Linked DNA regions of Homo sapiens. The protein of the gene in region 2 interacts with the protein of the main gene of each other region in a pairwise test. Each region holds a gene or a part of one and is shown on either strand. Other genes may lie near its edges.

Region 1 (7,031 bases), on a different chromosome or scaffold from region 2:
AACAGAGCCTGAGATGGAGATTTTGTGCAAGTGACTCCTAGGGGCATTCCTGGGAGAAGAGTGTGAAGGAGGGAGGGAGAGAAGCAGGATGGGGCAGGACAAGGAGCTGAGCAAAGATGTGGTTTCAGGATTAGTCTAGCCTCAGCCTGATCCTATGGGTCACTTTGGAGTGAAAGGACAGAAATTGCTTAGAAGCAAAGGAGCTGGGCTATTGTACCCACTCTCCCCACCAACAGGTATTTTTAGTTGGTCATTAGCATGGACTGCCACTGATATTAATATAATCGGCAAGGCTTCTCCTGGTAAGGGGGCTCCCTTCAGTCAAGGGCAAGCCTTAGGAGAAGAAGCCAGGGGTGAGCTGTTAGCTACCAACATCCACCACACCTGGGGATGGGTGCAGGGTCAGGTGTGTGGATCTGGGCAGGCACTAATAGCATCTGTTGGAAGGACATACAGCTCTGTTGACAGGTCCAGGGGAGGAAAAAATAACTTTCTTTCCACTCTTAGTTCTTAGCTGTGATTAATTCTGTAATGAAAGACAGATTAATAAGATAAAAGCAAACAGAAGCTCATTAACACGTATATTTTACATATACATGGGAGATATCTAGGCAATTACTAAATCTCAAAGAAGTGGCTTGGAATTCCAGCGTATGTAGCATCTTCAACAAAAACCAGTAAATTTTTAGAGAAGTGACAAGACAAAGGAAAAGGACTTTGAGTCTCTAGGGGTAAAAAATTATGGGAAGGCAGATAGACAGTAGATAAAGGCTAGTTAGTAAAGCTTGTTAATGTAGATTCCTCTGGTGCCCTCTCCAGGCTGATAAGGGTCTGAAGTTGTCTTCAGTGATCAACCTTTGTCTTTCCTGGTAGAGAGGGGAAGAAGCCTTTCCTCTTGTTTAGTGACCAGTGAAAAGTAAATTTATGCCCTACTTTTAGGCAAATGGCAGGGGGAGGGGGCAGGTGGGAGGCGGTGACAGAGAACTACTTCTCCATTGCCTTCAGCTTAAAATAATCCTTATGCCAAAGTGGCACATTTTGGGGTGGCATATTCTGGTCTCCTACACAGGACATATCGCTGGGTGAGGAGGTAAAAAAATTATTTTTCCTTTGTGTTTTTCTGAATTCTAAAAGTTTTCTAACATTGAATCTATTTTTCATAACTAGAAAATATGAGTTAAATAAAATCCATGCAGCAAAATCACCTGGTTTGTTACAGATAGAAGTAACAGAAAATTACCTTATATTCCTAACCCCTTGGGGTGTCCTCTTGACCACACTGGACAGATGACCCCTGCTCATTGTTTGGCAAATGCCAATCCCCCAAGCTGGCCCTGGTTGTCACAGAGCTTCTCTGTTTCATCATACTCAGTAAGCCAGTGGCTTAGCACTTAGCTGGTTGTGTGACTCATAAATCAGGAATGCAACCAGTGTGGCTAATGGAGAGGGGCAAGAGGCGGGGATAGGCTGTGCCACCAATAATCAGTGCAATATGTGTGCAGGCATCGTTAGAACCTTTAGATATGGTCTCACTTAATCTTTACAATCGCCCCATGAAGGTGGCAGTATTATCTCCATTTAATAGATGAGGAAGTCTAGACTGGGGGGTTAAGAAACCAAAGTTGTAATTTTTGTTTGGCCACCAGTGAAAAATGAAAACTCTAGACCAAATGATGGATTTTTAAACTGTGTTTCTAGCAGCGCTTAGGCTTAGCAAAGATGCCGGGGATAGGAGGAGCTGCTGAGAGGGAAGGACTGGCCATCGGCACCTCAGTTATGGCAGCTCTGCCTTGGTCTGTTTTATGGGTTGGCAGGGATAGCTTCACGAATGTGCAGCCAGTGCAGCCTCACGGGGCCTGCTGGGCTCACAAGGGGCCCTGCGCTTAGGACCTAATGCTCTGCAGGCACCATCGTGAAATCCTTCATAATTTTGTCTTTTAATGTGTGTTTTATAAGTAAATCCAATGGACAATGGAGCGTGTCCCCGGGCTTGGAGCTGTAAATCATACTTGGCCCCACTTGCTGTTGCCTTTCTGCCTCCCTGGGATATATTCCCTGCTGCCTGCTCTTGATCCTGGTGCGTAAGGCCTCTCCTTGCTTCCCTGCTGCCCTCCTCATGGATCAGCAACTGGATTGCATTGGGAGAAGGGAGAAGGGAGCTGTGTTTCATGTCCTTCAACCCCCAGGAGGACCTGGCCATAGGCATAGGGAGGATTGGGGTCAGGTGTGCCCCTTGAAGTGTCTCAGGTATGACAAGGGAGTGGCCATCCCCATCCAGGCTGGCAGCATCATGGTGCATTCAGTGGATGGCTCAGTAGGGGCCTCTCACAGACCTTTGACCCGGGTACCAAGTCATGACGCACATAGAAAATGGCAACATCTGGAGGCTGGGTGTGGGGGCTCACACCTGTAATCCCAGCACTTTGGGAGGCCAAGGCGGGTGGATCACTTGAGGCCAGGAGTTTGAGACCAGCCTAACCAACACAGTGAGACTCCATCTCCATTTAAAATACAAAAATTAGCTGGGTGTGGTAGCGCATGCCTGTAGTCCCAGCTACTCAGGAGGCTGTGGCAGTTCAGTTGCTTGAACCCAGGAGGCAGAGGCTGCAGTGAGTTGAGATCATGCCACTGCACTCCACCCTGGGCAACAGAGCGAGACTCCATCTGAAAAAAAACAAGGCAACATCTGTATGGCACACTGGGGGAGACAGCAAGCAAAGGGAGCCCTGGCCAGCCTTGACTCCCATTCAGCAGCCCCAAGGGCTGAAGGCAGTTCTACCCTAGGCTTAGGAAATGGAGTCTCTACCTTGGTCTTGTGCTTCAGACACCCCTTGCCCCTTTCACCCCATGAGCCCCACCCTTCCCACAGGCTGAGTTATCCAGAGGCCAAGGGGACGTATCTACCAAAGCCTCAGCCCTCCTTCAGAATTCATTGCTTTTATTCCCCCAGTCCATTACAGACAAATATATGGTCTTACTTTGTGTGATTAATACACAACTCACCCCACTTGTGACTCACCCCATGAGTTTAAAAGCACTCAACTTAGTTTGCACCCTGCTCAATCAGTAAGTTCAACTAGACAAGTCTGCCTTTGGATGTTCTGGCAATGTCAAATTGCTATAGAAATTTGTAAATGCTTGCAATCAGTTCTTATATGTATCCCACAGCAGACAGTAACAACAGTTTGGTCCCTGGAGGACACTGAGTAGCACTATTCTAGGCTCTTCTGTGGGTGCTGGGACCCTGGAATCCAGTCTGAATGACACCAAATCCAAATCCACACCAAGCCTGCTTCCAGAGTCTTTATGGGCCTGTTTTCCTGATCTCTTCTGCAGGTGTACACTGCCCTAGCCCCAGGCTGTTTGCAGGGAGGAGTGGGCAGAGATGAGACATGTGTACTGTGGTGTTCATACACATGCATCTCAGGCCCCTTTAGGTACAGGATGGAGAAAAGGTGGGAATGGGAAGAGCAGGGGCAGGCTGTAATTGGTGGAGGAAGGAAGCCACAAGGATTTGGGACAAGCCTAGCTGCAGGAATCCATTTCTCTGTTCACCTTGAATCCATCACAGCACCCCAATGTGCTGAGGCCTGCCAGTCAGGGAGCTCTGGACCAGATACTTTCCACTGTGACTTTCAATGTTTTGAATTCTGATTTCTATCCCATGGTCACAGTTGAAAGCTCATTAGCATTTGGCACAGCAAGTGGGTGACACACAGATAGGTGTCCTGTGGACACTGCCATCTCACTGTGTGGGAACTGCAGTCTTAGCAACTCTGCCAGTCAACACCCTCCCGCCCTTGATATACAAAAATACACTGCGCTTCTGATGCCTGCCCCATGGCAAATAATTTCTCAACACCCAGGGAAAGGATTTTGTTTGTTTTTCTTTACGTTTGATTAAAAGCAAGCCCAGGCAAATACCCCAAAGGAAAGAGAAACAAATGACTTTACAATTAAAATATAAACCTACACAATTAGTCATTAGGCATATAAATAATATAACATCTTTAGTAAATCAAGAAGCATTAATCCAAGCAATGAGATACTTTATTTTTCCTCTTAAATTGACAAAGATGAAAACCAGAAAAGAAAATATTCAGTATTTGTCAGGATTTAGGGAATATTGCTGTCTTATATACTGTTGGCAGATGGTCAACAGAAGACAGACTTGTAGAGGTAAATTTGAAAATATATTGCAGAAGACTTAAAAATGTGTATATCCTTTGAAATCTTGAAAACATTGTTTCATAGTCTTCTTATGAAACAATGTTTTCATAAGATGAATGAAAAGTTGATGTCTGTCTCACTCTTGATTTTTTTTTCCTCTTCTTAAGCTGTTCTTGATATCACTGATGTTCTGAAACTTCACTAAGGTCTGTCTTAGGTTGGGCTTCTCTTGCCAAGTATTTGGTAGCCTACTTCAAATTGAGGTTTCACATCTTTCTTTGGTTCTAAGAAATCTTTATTATTTCTGTGAATATTGCTTCCCCTCAATCTTCTCTAGCCTCTCATCTACAACTCTTATTAGATCAAGGCTTAATTTACTGGATTTCTATCCTGCATTTCCTAATAATGTTCAGCCCTCTGTGCTACCATGGAGAATTCCTTGGCCTGCCCTTTCAGCTCACGAAACTGCTCTTTCTGTCTATCGTGTTATTCAGCTTCTCTATTGAGGGTTTTTTCTTTCAACATTTAAGATTATTATTTCAAATATCTCTGATTGAACATTTTTGGGTAACTCGTCCTCATTTTGTGGTTATATTATCTCCATTTTTCTGAGCAGATTGACTATACTTATTGAAAATTCTTTTCTGAATACCATATTAACTCCATTTCTTTTGGGGATCTCCATTGCAGAGTTAGTTGTCTCTTTTTTGTGGTGTTGGCCTTCCTCAAATGTTTGCTCATTCTTGTTTTTGTACTGATTTTTGTAACTGAAGTTTCCTGCTAGAATGTCATCTGCATCTATTTGAGAGAGCCACTTGGAGAGCAGGGATGGGAACTACTATTGGCCTAACTCTTGGCACTATTTTCAAAATACCAGTCTTCTTAACCTGGGTTTTTCTTTCTCGCAGGTGTCTCCAGCTCCTGAGAGCACTGCCCTTCTCTCTAGTCCCTGCCCCATACAGACTCCTCTATTGTTGCTGACTGGCCTCAGCAGGTGGAAGAGTAGAAAGTCCGGGCTACCTTGCTGCTTCTTGCCTCCCTGTAACTATGGCAGAAACTCTGTCAGCTTCTGACATCATACTTGGCATTCCCTGTCATGCTTCCTGGGCCACCTTTTCTCTTTCCAATAAGATTCTGTTCATCCTTTATTAACTCCTCAGTGTAGTCCTCTCCCTTTTCAGTGAGGCTATTTATTTAAACTTCTATCATTTCTTGGCATTTGTTGTAAAAGGCACACATACTCAGTCCAACACTTTGAGCTGGAGCTATTAAAAAAAATCTCTGTATTGGCCAAGCATGTTATCTCATGCCTGTAATCTCAGCACTTTAGAAGACTTAGGTGGGAGGATTGCTCAAGGCCAGGAGTTCAAGACCAGCCTGGGCAACATAGTGAGACCCTGTCTCTACAAAAAAATATACAAAAATTAGCTGGGCATGGTGACACGTGCCTTTAGTCCCAGCTACTTGGAAAGCTGAGGTGAGAGGATCGCTTGAGCCCAAGAGTTTGAGACTGCAGCAAACTATGATCATGCCACTACACTCCAGCCTAGGCAACAGAGTGAGACCATCTCTCTAAAAAACAAAACAAAATAAAAACCCAACATTTATATAACCTTCAAGCCAGTAATCCCACTTCTAGGAATTTATCCCAAGGAAGTAATTTAAAATAAAACTTTAACCACAAGGTGTTTCATCACAGTAGGATTTATTATGAAAATGTGGAAACAAATATCCAAGCAAAGGGGATTAGGTAAATAAATGATGACATAGACATGTGAAAAATAACATGGCAGAATATTTAATGGTATAGAAAAAAGTCATCAAGGTATCATTAAGTAAAAATTTCAGGTTACAGAATTGTTTTAAAATCTCCTTTTTGTAAAAAGCATATATGTTCTTATAGAAAAGGGTAGCTCTGCATGGTGGGATTTCTGGCAACTTTTGTTTTTTCATTTTGACTATCTGTTTCTCCACCATTTTGGGATTGTTTGCAACATCTGCCATGTGCAAGCTTCTGGTTCCATCCTCTGCTTACCTCCCCCAGGCATGCTGGAAGATGGACTGCCCTCCAATGGTGTGCCCCGATCTACAGCCCCAGGTGGAATACCCAACCCAGAGAAGAAGACGAACTGTGAGACCCAGTGCCCAAATCCCCAGAGCCTCAGCTCAGGCCCTCTGACCCAGAAACAGAATGGCCTTCAGACCACAGAGGTAGGGTTGCAGCCACAGAATCAACTGGGGACTGGAGAATGGGGGTAGGGCTTGCTTCAGGGCAGAGCCACCCAGCCGCTATGTCCAGGGAGGGACCAGGGATGGCTCATCTTGGAAAAAAAAAGTCTCTGCCCCACCCATGTAAAAATTGCTGCAAACCCCACCCCAAAACCCTGCCTTGAGGGTTGCTGCTTTTTGTTTCCATGTGTATGTTTGCTTAAGTACAGCTTTATTCAAGGATCTTGTTTTCTGTGGCCACTGTCACCATGTTGATGGTGAGGACTGTGCTGGTTAGAGGAACCAGTCTTAGGCCAGGCAGCTGGCCAGTCTCAGGGGTTGGCAGGGTGGGGAGTGGGCAGAGGAAGGAAAGAGAAGACCAGAGTGGTTGGAAACAAGCCTCGCATTTTACTCAGGCCCTCCAACCAGGTGGACATTGGAAGGGCCCCCAAGGGTGGCTCTCATAGCAGAATGTGGTGACAGCATCATCCCCAGACTGTTGGAAGAGGCAGGTCAGTGATGTCCCAGGACGTGGCGGGTATCCTTTCTTTTCTCCCAGAGCTATTGTTGGGAAGATCCTCTTATGGGTACAGGAGGGGCAGCCCAGAATGAGCGCTCTTAGTAGGCAGGGCTCAGGCATCTGCAGTCTCTTC
Region 2 (7,031 bases):
GAGAGCAGCATTATGTTTGAAATGTCTAAAATTAGGAAAAAAGAGATCTCTGCTTTTCAGTTAATCTCCTTGGAGGACTCAGAGTAGATCTGGGAGCTGAAGCAGTCCTGGACATTAGTCTTCTCCAAACACTGTTGTGTTTGCTGTCACAGTTTTGTTGTAGTTTTGCAGTATTTTCATTTATTTAACAGGTTTCCTTCCAAATTTCAAATATTTCTGTGATGAGTCATGTTGCCACCAGATGGCAGTGATAGCTCATGAATATGTTCCTATTCATGGATGTGGGTGTGGCTTATTTATAAAAATCTCACCCCTCGGTGAAGAGCTGCACTTAGACAACATGAATTCAAGAAGATAATTTTATGGAACACATTTTAAAATGAAATAAGCACCTGAAAAGTATTATAGTATAGTGGATAAAAGCACGGGCTCTGGACCAAGACTGCAAGGGAATGAATCCTGGCTCTTTCACCTTCTAGGCTTGCAACTTCAGAGAAGTCCCTTACCCTCCCTTTCAACATCTATAAAGTGGGGAAAATCGTAGCAACTACTCAACTTCCCGACAGGGTTGTTGTGAGGGTTAAAGGAGTTAATATAGAGAGAGTGCTTAGAATAATGCCTGGCAAGTAGTAAGCACAGCGTAAGTGTCATTATCATTATTATTAGGTATAATTTAGCATCTCTCAGTAATCGGTCATGATTACCTCCTTGTTCCAACTTCAACTTGATACGAAGACTTTAATTAGAATATTCCTGCCTGATTTGTCTGGAGATCCAGCTTATGGTCAGTAGTCCTTCTTAAAAGTTAGTCCTTAATTCAGGTTTATGGAACAAGCCCTTTCAGGCTTGCTTGTTTCAGCAACCAGCTCTAACGACCCTGGCAAGAGGGAGTCTGTTTTGTACTTGTTTTCACATTAATCAAAGAGAAGGCTGCAATGTACCTTCACGGTTCTCTTAATTAATTCCTGTAACTCAAGGTACCTCCTCAGCTCTCTTCCTGCAGCACTGAAGAAAGACCAGCAAGAGTGTTCTGAGCAAGCCTCAGAACACTCAGAGTAAATGACAAGAGTGTTCTTGTCTTGCCGTTGGTTTTGTTACTTTCTTTTTGATTAATGTGGAAACCAGTACAAAAAAGACTCACTGGAGTTTTCTCTAATCAGAGGGAGGAGGTTTCCCACTCTGCTCAGGAGTATAATATCATCCACTCTTCTCATTAACTTTTTATCAGAGATCTTGCTACCTAGTTGTAACTTGCAAGCGACATTCGGCACTCTTCTCTTGACAGTGCGCACTGCAGACCTCTCATATTTAGATCTGTTTTCTGAAAGAGCATGTGTCCTTTTCCTCAGACTACTCTAATCAAAATCTAATCAAGGTTTTTAAGCAGAAGAGATAAAGTGGCTCCATGGCACTGACTTAAGTATCCACCTTGGCCACTTGCCCCTGCTCCGCTCATTCTGTTCCATTCAGTAATAAAAATTTTCCCATCAGGCAATAAGAGGTCAGGTAGCACTTCTCACCGCTGGAACAAGGCTTTGGAGTTAGGGGTGTGGGTCCATTTGAAGGATGAAGCCAATTGTTTTGACTGATTTCAGTTTATCAGTCTGACCCACTCTAGCCTTGTGCTTATTTTCTAGCTCCTCGTCTTTGTGCTGCTGATTACATTCCTTTTTGCATTGTTTTCAGGTGGAGTTGGCATGAACTTAACAGCAGCAGATACTGTGATTTTTGTTGACAGTGACTTTAATCCTCAGAATGACTTGCAAGCAGCTGCCAGGGCTCATCGCATTGGCCAAAACAAGTAAGTGATTTTTTTCTGCTTCCTTGGCTTGCCCAGCAGCAGTTCTGGGTTGTGAAAAAGGTGAAGAATATAGTCCTGGTGACAGTCCCACACTGGGAGCTGAGAGACCACCAGGTTTTAGCTCATCTGTGCTATTGACTCCTAGGGTAGTATTGGGTGGGTCACATTATCAGTCCAGACTGACTTTATTAGAAGGAGTCAAATCAAACTGTGAAAGGATTAGAAGGAAACTTTAGAAGTCATTTAACTCATCCTTCTTGAGTTAGGGTCTGACTCAGTTAAAAAATGGGGTTATGGGGCTATGGAGCTAAGCTAAAAAAAAAAAAAAGAAAGATAGATGTTGCCCTTTGATCTGAGGATAATTTGATCTTCCAGATATTTTCCTTGGCTACAGATAAGGAATCCCAGTCATGGTTACCCCATCATTCTTTCTTTGACTGTCTGGAATGGTTCAGAGAGAATTTCAGGCGAGTTCTCTCTAACAAGTGCTCAGGACCAAATGAACCAATCTCCCTTTCATTGTACCCTGAATATGGTATTTGGTTTTGTTTGCTTTTAGATGTATTTACCTTGCATACTTTTGCCCAGCTTTGCACACCCTTATAGCACACTACCCTTGTTTGACTTATGTCCAGGTCTGTTAAAGTTATTCGGCTGATTGGTCGAGACACTGTGGAAGAAATAGTCTATAGGAAAGCAGCCTCCAAACTGCAGCTCACCAACATGATCATAGAAGGAGGCCATTTTACTCTGGGAGCCCAGAAACCCGCTGCCGATGCTGACCTCCAGGTATGATATGATATACTGTTCTTCACTTTGGAATATACCAATACCCTTTGTGGAGGAGAATGTAAATGAAAAGAACCAGCACTCACCCTCTCCCCAGCTACACATTTGTTCCTTGGCCTCCCTCACACCTGCCACAGTGCTGGCTGTGTGCAGGGTCTGTAGGAAGTAAGGATTAGTTCCAAGCCTCATCACTTCTTGGCTGTTTGGGTTTGAGCGGCTTTCTTAACTTCTTAGATCTACTCTTTTTGCATTTCTAAAAATAAAGACACCACAGGTTAGCTCAGAGGGCTGTTAAGAGAATTAGTTAAAATAAAGAACTCAATAACAATTAATTCTGTACTTCCACCTTAGTCCCAGAGCCTTTGATCAGTGACTTACATTACTTCATACTCAGAAGAGGGCGAATGAGATCAGGAATTCATAATTGTGCCTTAGAAAAAATGGGTGAAAGAACTAGAGGTAATTTATTTAAAGAAGGGAGTACTGGATGGGAGACAGACACTGGATTGGAAGATTTTAGAGCTCTCTTTTGGAAGAGGACTTAGAGTTACTCTGTAGCAGCCCTTGGGTTAAAATTAAAACTCATAATATTTCCTGGATGCTTTGTTTTTGCCCTAAGGATGAGGGGCTGGATGCAAAGAGACCAACTCCTAGGATACTAGAAAGATGCAGGTATGAAGGGAGTAATAAATGTCTGTCAAGGGCAGCATCAGTGGGAGAGTCTGGTGTGAGAAACATTGCAAAAGAAGGAAGGACAGGAGTTGGCTACTGTTTAGAGTTGGGTCTCAACAGTAGGGAGATAGAAAATTCAAAGATGGCTGTGAGGTTTTAGGCCCCTATGATGAGGAGAGAAGAAAGGAAAATAAGAAGTAGGGCAGAGTTTTAGGAAGATAAAGAGAATTTAGGCTTTAGTCAGAGTGTGCAGTAAAAATACAATATAAACAAACTATTGTTAGAGGCAGACTCAGACAAAAGGAAAGAATTTTATTTGTAAAAGTTTGCAAGATGGACTAGGATTGGAAAGGACTAGTCCATCAAAAAACATAAGTGTTTAAGAGAGAAAAAGTGACACAATATTAGAAGCAGAGTTACTAAGTTTGTAATTAGTCTGAAAAAACAGCAGTTTTCTTACATGGTTACCGTATCTGCAAAGGCCAGTGCATATCTTTACATATCAGTGTTGCAAAAGACAGGGATCCTGTTGTTTTTGTTAGGGAGTTAGTAATTACAGGAAAGGCTCAAGGTTTTATTAATTTTGGGACTAGAACTAGAAAGAGTAACACTGGGTTTGTTCTTTGTTTATCTTAGGGGGTAGGTGTGGCTTTTTTCTTTTTCTGACTTTCCTTGTGTTGCTGACTGTGTCACATGCATGCTTAATTAACCATAATGGTGCTAGGGCAGGCTGTACATTTTGTTTTCACACTAAGAGACAATTATAAATGTGAGATGAAAGCTTGAGAGAGAGGTAGAGGTACGCTGTAGATACCCTTAAATGCAGTTTTCCACAGAAAAATTATCCATAGAACCTTAAGAGAGAGAAGGTCACTGCTGGGCATAGTGAAGGGGTAAATGACAGAGCCTCACAAGGCCCGCATTCTCTTGTTAGAGGAGGAAGGATGTCATAGGTTGTTTGCACTCTCCCAGTGGAGGGAGCGCCAGGGGTCCAATGAGGGGTATCTTGTGATGTGGGCTGCTGGACACATCACTGTGAAAGATGTAGACATACCTCCACCCCATGGGGCCACAAACGAGTGGGAACATGGACTGCTGGCTGAGAGCGACTCTGTTGGACTTCTTGCCCAGCTCATGGTTATCGGAAAGTTACTTTCTGACTCTAATGTCTGATTTATCTCTTCCCCATGCAGATGCTATGAGTTATTTGTGGTTACCAAAAGCAAAGGTGATAACCCAGAGCCCTTGTCTAAAAAGAAAGCAGGGGATTTTTGTTTGTTTTTGTTTTTTGGGTTTTTTTTTTTTTTTTTTTTTGAGACAGAGTCTCGTTCTGTTGCCAGGCTGGAGTGCAGTGGCGCGATCTCAGCTCACTGCAACCTCTGCCTCCCGGGTTCAAGCAATTCTCCTGCCTCAGCCTCCTGAGTAGCTGGGACTACAGGCGCGCACCACCACGCCTAGCTAATTTTTGCATTTTTAGTAGAGACGGGGTTTCACCATGTTGGCCAGACTGGTCTTGATCTCCTGACCTTGTGATCCGTCCACCTCGGCCTCCTAAAGTGCTGGGATTACAGGCATGAGCCACTGCGCCTGGGGGTATTTTTTTTTTTTTAAATACCAAGAAACCAAAAGTAAAAGATGTGGTTCTGATTTGGTAAATCTAAGCAGTAGGTATGGAGTTCTGAAGTCCTGAAAGAAGGAAACAGGTTTTTTATCCTGCAGGGAGGACACAGTAGAAACAGGCAGGCAGATGCAGGTGTAGTGAACACTTATTGGATACTGTGTGCTGAGTGTTGTCTGAGGTGCTCTTTTCCAGTTGTTTCAGTAAATAAGAATAACAGCAGGATGAGATAGACACTATCTTTATCCCCATCTTAAGTAATTTGCCCAAGGTTATTCAGATTTAGGATTCCAATCCAAGCACTCTCTAACCTCCGAGCACATGCCCTTAATTACTGTAATATACAGCTTCTCATAAAAACACATGTAATTTTCTTAATGACTAAGACACATTGCAAGTGAGCAATAACAAGGGAGAGCCAGGAGGTGAGCATAAGTACAAGGGGGTGAAAGGGAGGGTCCCAGTATGGACCAATTCTTATCATAAATAGTTGGCTTCCTACTATTTTTGGTACCAGCTGCCAAAGCCAGTCATCCTGGTTATGTGTATGGAGGGTAAATATAATATATCTAGGTACATTCATGCTTAAGTGAGCTGTCTATTGTTTCTTCAAGCTGTTACAGAATACCTTAACATTTCCAAGTTACTCACAAAATAGACGATCTGGAGATAACCCAGTCTAAAAGGGCAAGATGAGAACAAGGGCCCAAGGTTTGAATCCACCTTGGGTCAGGATCTCAGAATTAGTGCTTACGGAGGTGCAAAGTTGGAAGTAGCAAGTGAAAGCCAGGAAAAATTATCTGTGCTTTCTGCATGGTTCCTACAGCCATAGGGAATAGGCTGAGAGTACTCCAGAGAGGGACGAGAGAAGAGAAGCAGGATAGTGCAATGCCAGAGGAACATCCAGAAAAATTCAAACTGAGAAAAGGCCTTCGGGTCTGGTGGTCAGAAGTTGTTACTGATCTTTGCCAAGGTGGTTTCGATAGACCACTGTGTTAGGAAAACAAATTGCCAAAGAAAAGGAGTCAGTTCATGATAGAGGTAAAGTTCCTAGTGTAGCCTTCCCTTTCTAAGGAGTCTGGCAGTGGAGAGGTTGGAAAGTAGCTAACAGGGTCTCTGATCTCAAGTGGCTGCTGGGAATGCTTATGAAAAAGTCAGTGAGAGGTGCTGTAGAAAATGCAGGAAGTTACTATTATTCTTCAAAAAAATTGGAGGCTTATACATTTTTTTTGTTTTGTTTTTATGCAGAATTGTCAAAGTCAATACCTCTGATAATCATTTATCACCTCTCTGCTTACCCATCATCCAACTATTAAATGGCCCTGGCTGTTACTATCTATGATGGGGAGAGCAGAAAGGCTGCCTGTTCATTAGAGAAGGACTGTGCCTGGTGTCGTTAATCCACTTAGCCAATCACTGATATCCTAATGTTTCTTTTCATGAGAATTTGCTGGACTTTTTTGTTTCCTCTATTCAAGTTGAGTGAGATACTCAAATTTGGTTTGGATAAACTGCTGGCCTCTGAGGGGAGCACCATGGATGAAATAGACCTGGAGTCCATCCTGGGAGAAACAAAAGATGGCCAGTGGGTCTCTGATGCCTTGCCTGCAGCAGAAGGAGGGAGCAGAGATCAAGAGGAAGGAAGTAAGTTGGAGGTTAGAGCAGAGCAAATGGCACAACCACCCCAAGCTAGAGCTCACGTCCCCATGGAAAGTTTTGGATGCTGCTCTCTGGGGCATCTTTTTTCTCCCTTACCCTATTGTCATTTGGGCACACTGTTTAAGACTTGCTTGATAAAAGAACGTTACCCAAACTAACTGGAAATTTGTGTGGCTCTTCCCTTGTAGCTGAACTGTGAACCAAAATCATAGTATTAATGTTTATGATAGTATCAATCTTAAGGCTTTGAATTTGTACCTTTTCTCCCTTGGTTGCAAACATCTTCTTCTTTATTAGTAAAGCCTACCATCCTTGGTATGATGCTTTGCACATAGCGATTCCTCTTCTAAACAGTAGAATTACTTGTTTTTAAAATTGCAGCTAACATTAAGCATTTATTTTGCGTTCATCAACAGTGCGGACTTTGTCATGTGCTTTTTCCATTTAATTTCTGTAATCCATGAGATGTAGGAGATGGTTTTGTCTTTCTCT

What was found. Proteins that work in one complex are often made in the same cells at the same time.
Region 1: the proteins of CHD1L (region 2) and BAALC interact in a two-hybrid assay, tested with the Homo sapiens proteins (one study listed by BioGRID).

The regions. Positions count from the first base shown.
Region 1 is NC_000008.11:103,206,705-103,213,735, forward strand, and holds part of BAALC (brain and acute leukemia cytoplasmic protein), read left to right. Parts: intron 1-6,214; coding exon 6,215-6,381; intron 6,382-7,031. UniProt on the Homo sapiens protein: May play a synaptic role at the postsynaptic lipid rafts possibly through interaction with CAMK2A.
Region 2 is NC_000001.11:147,273,668-147,280,698, forward strand, and holds part of CHD1L (chromodomain-helicase-DNA-binding protein 1-like), read left to right. Parts: intron 1-1,686; coding exon 1,687-1,801; intron 1,802-2,436; coding exon 2,437-2,590; intron 2,591-6,358; coding exon 6,359-6,524; intron 6,525-7,031. UniProt on the Homo sapiens protein: ATP-dependent chromatin remodeler that mediates chromatin-remodeling following DNA damage.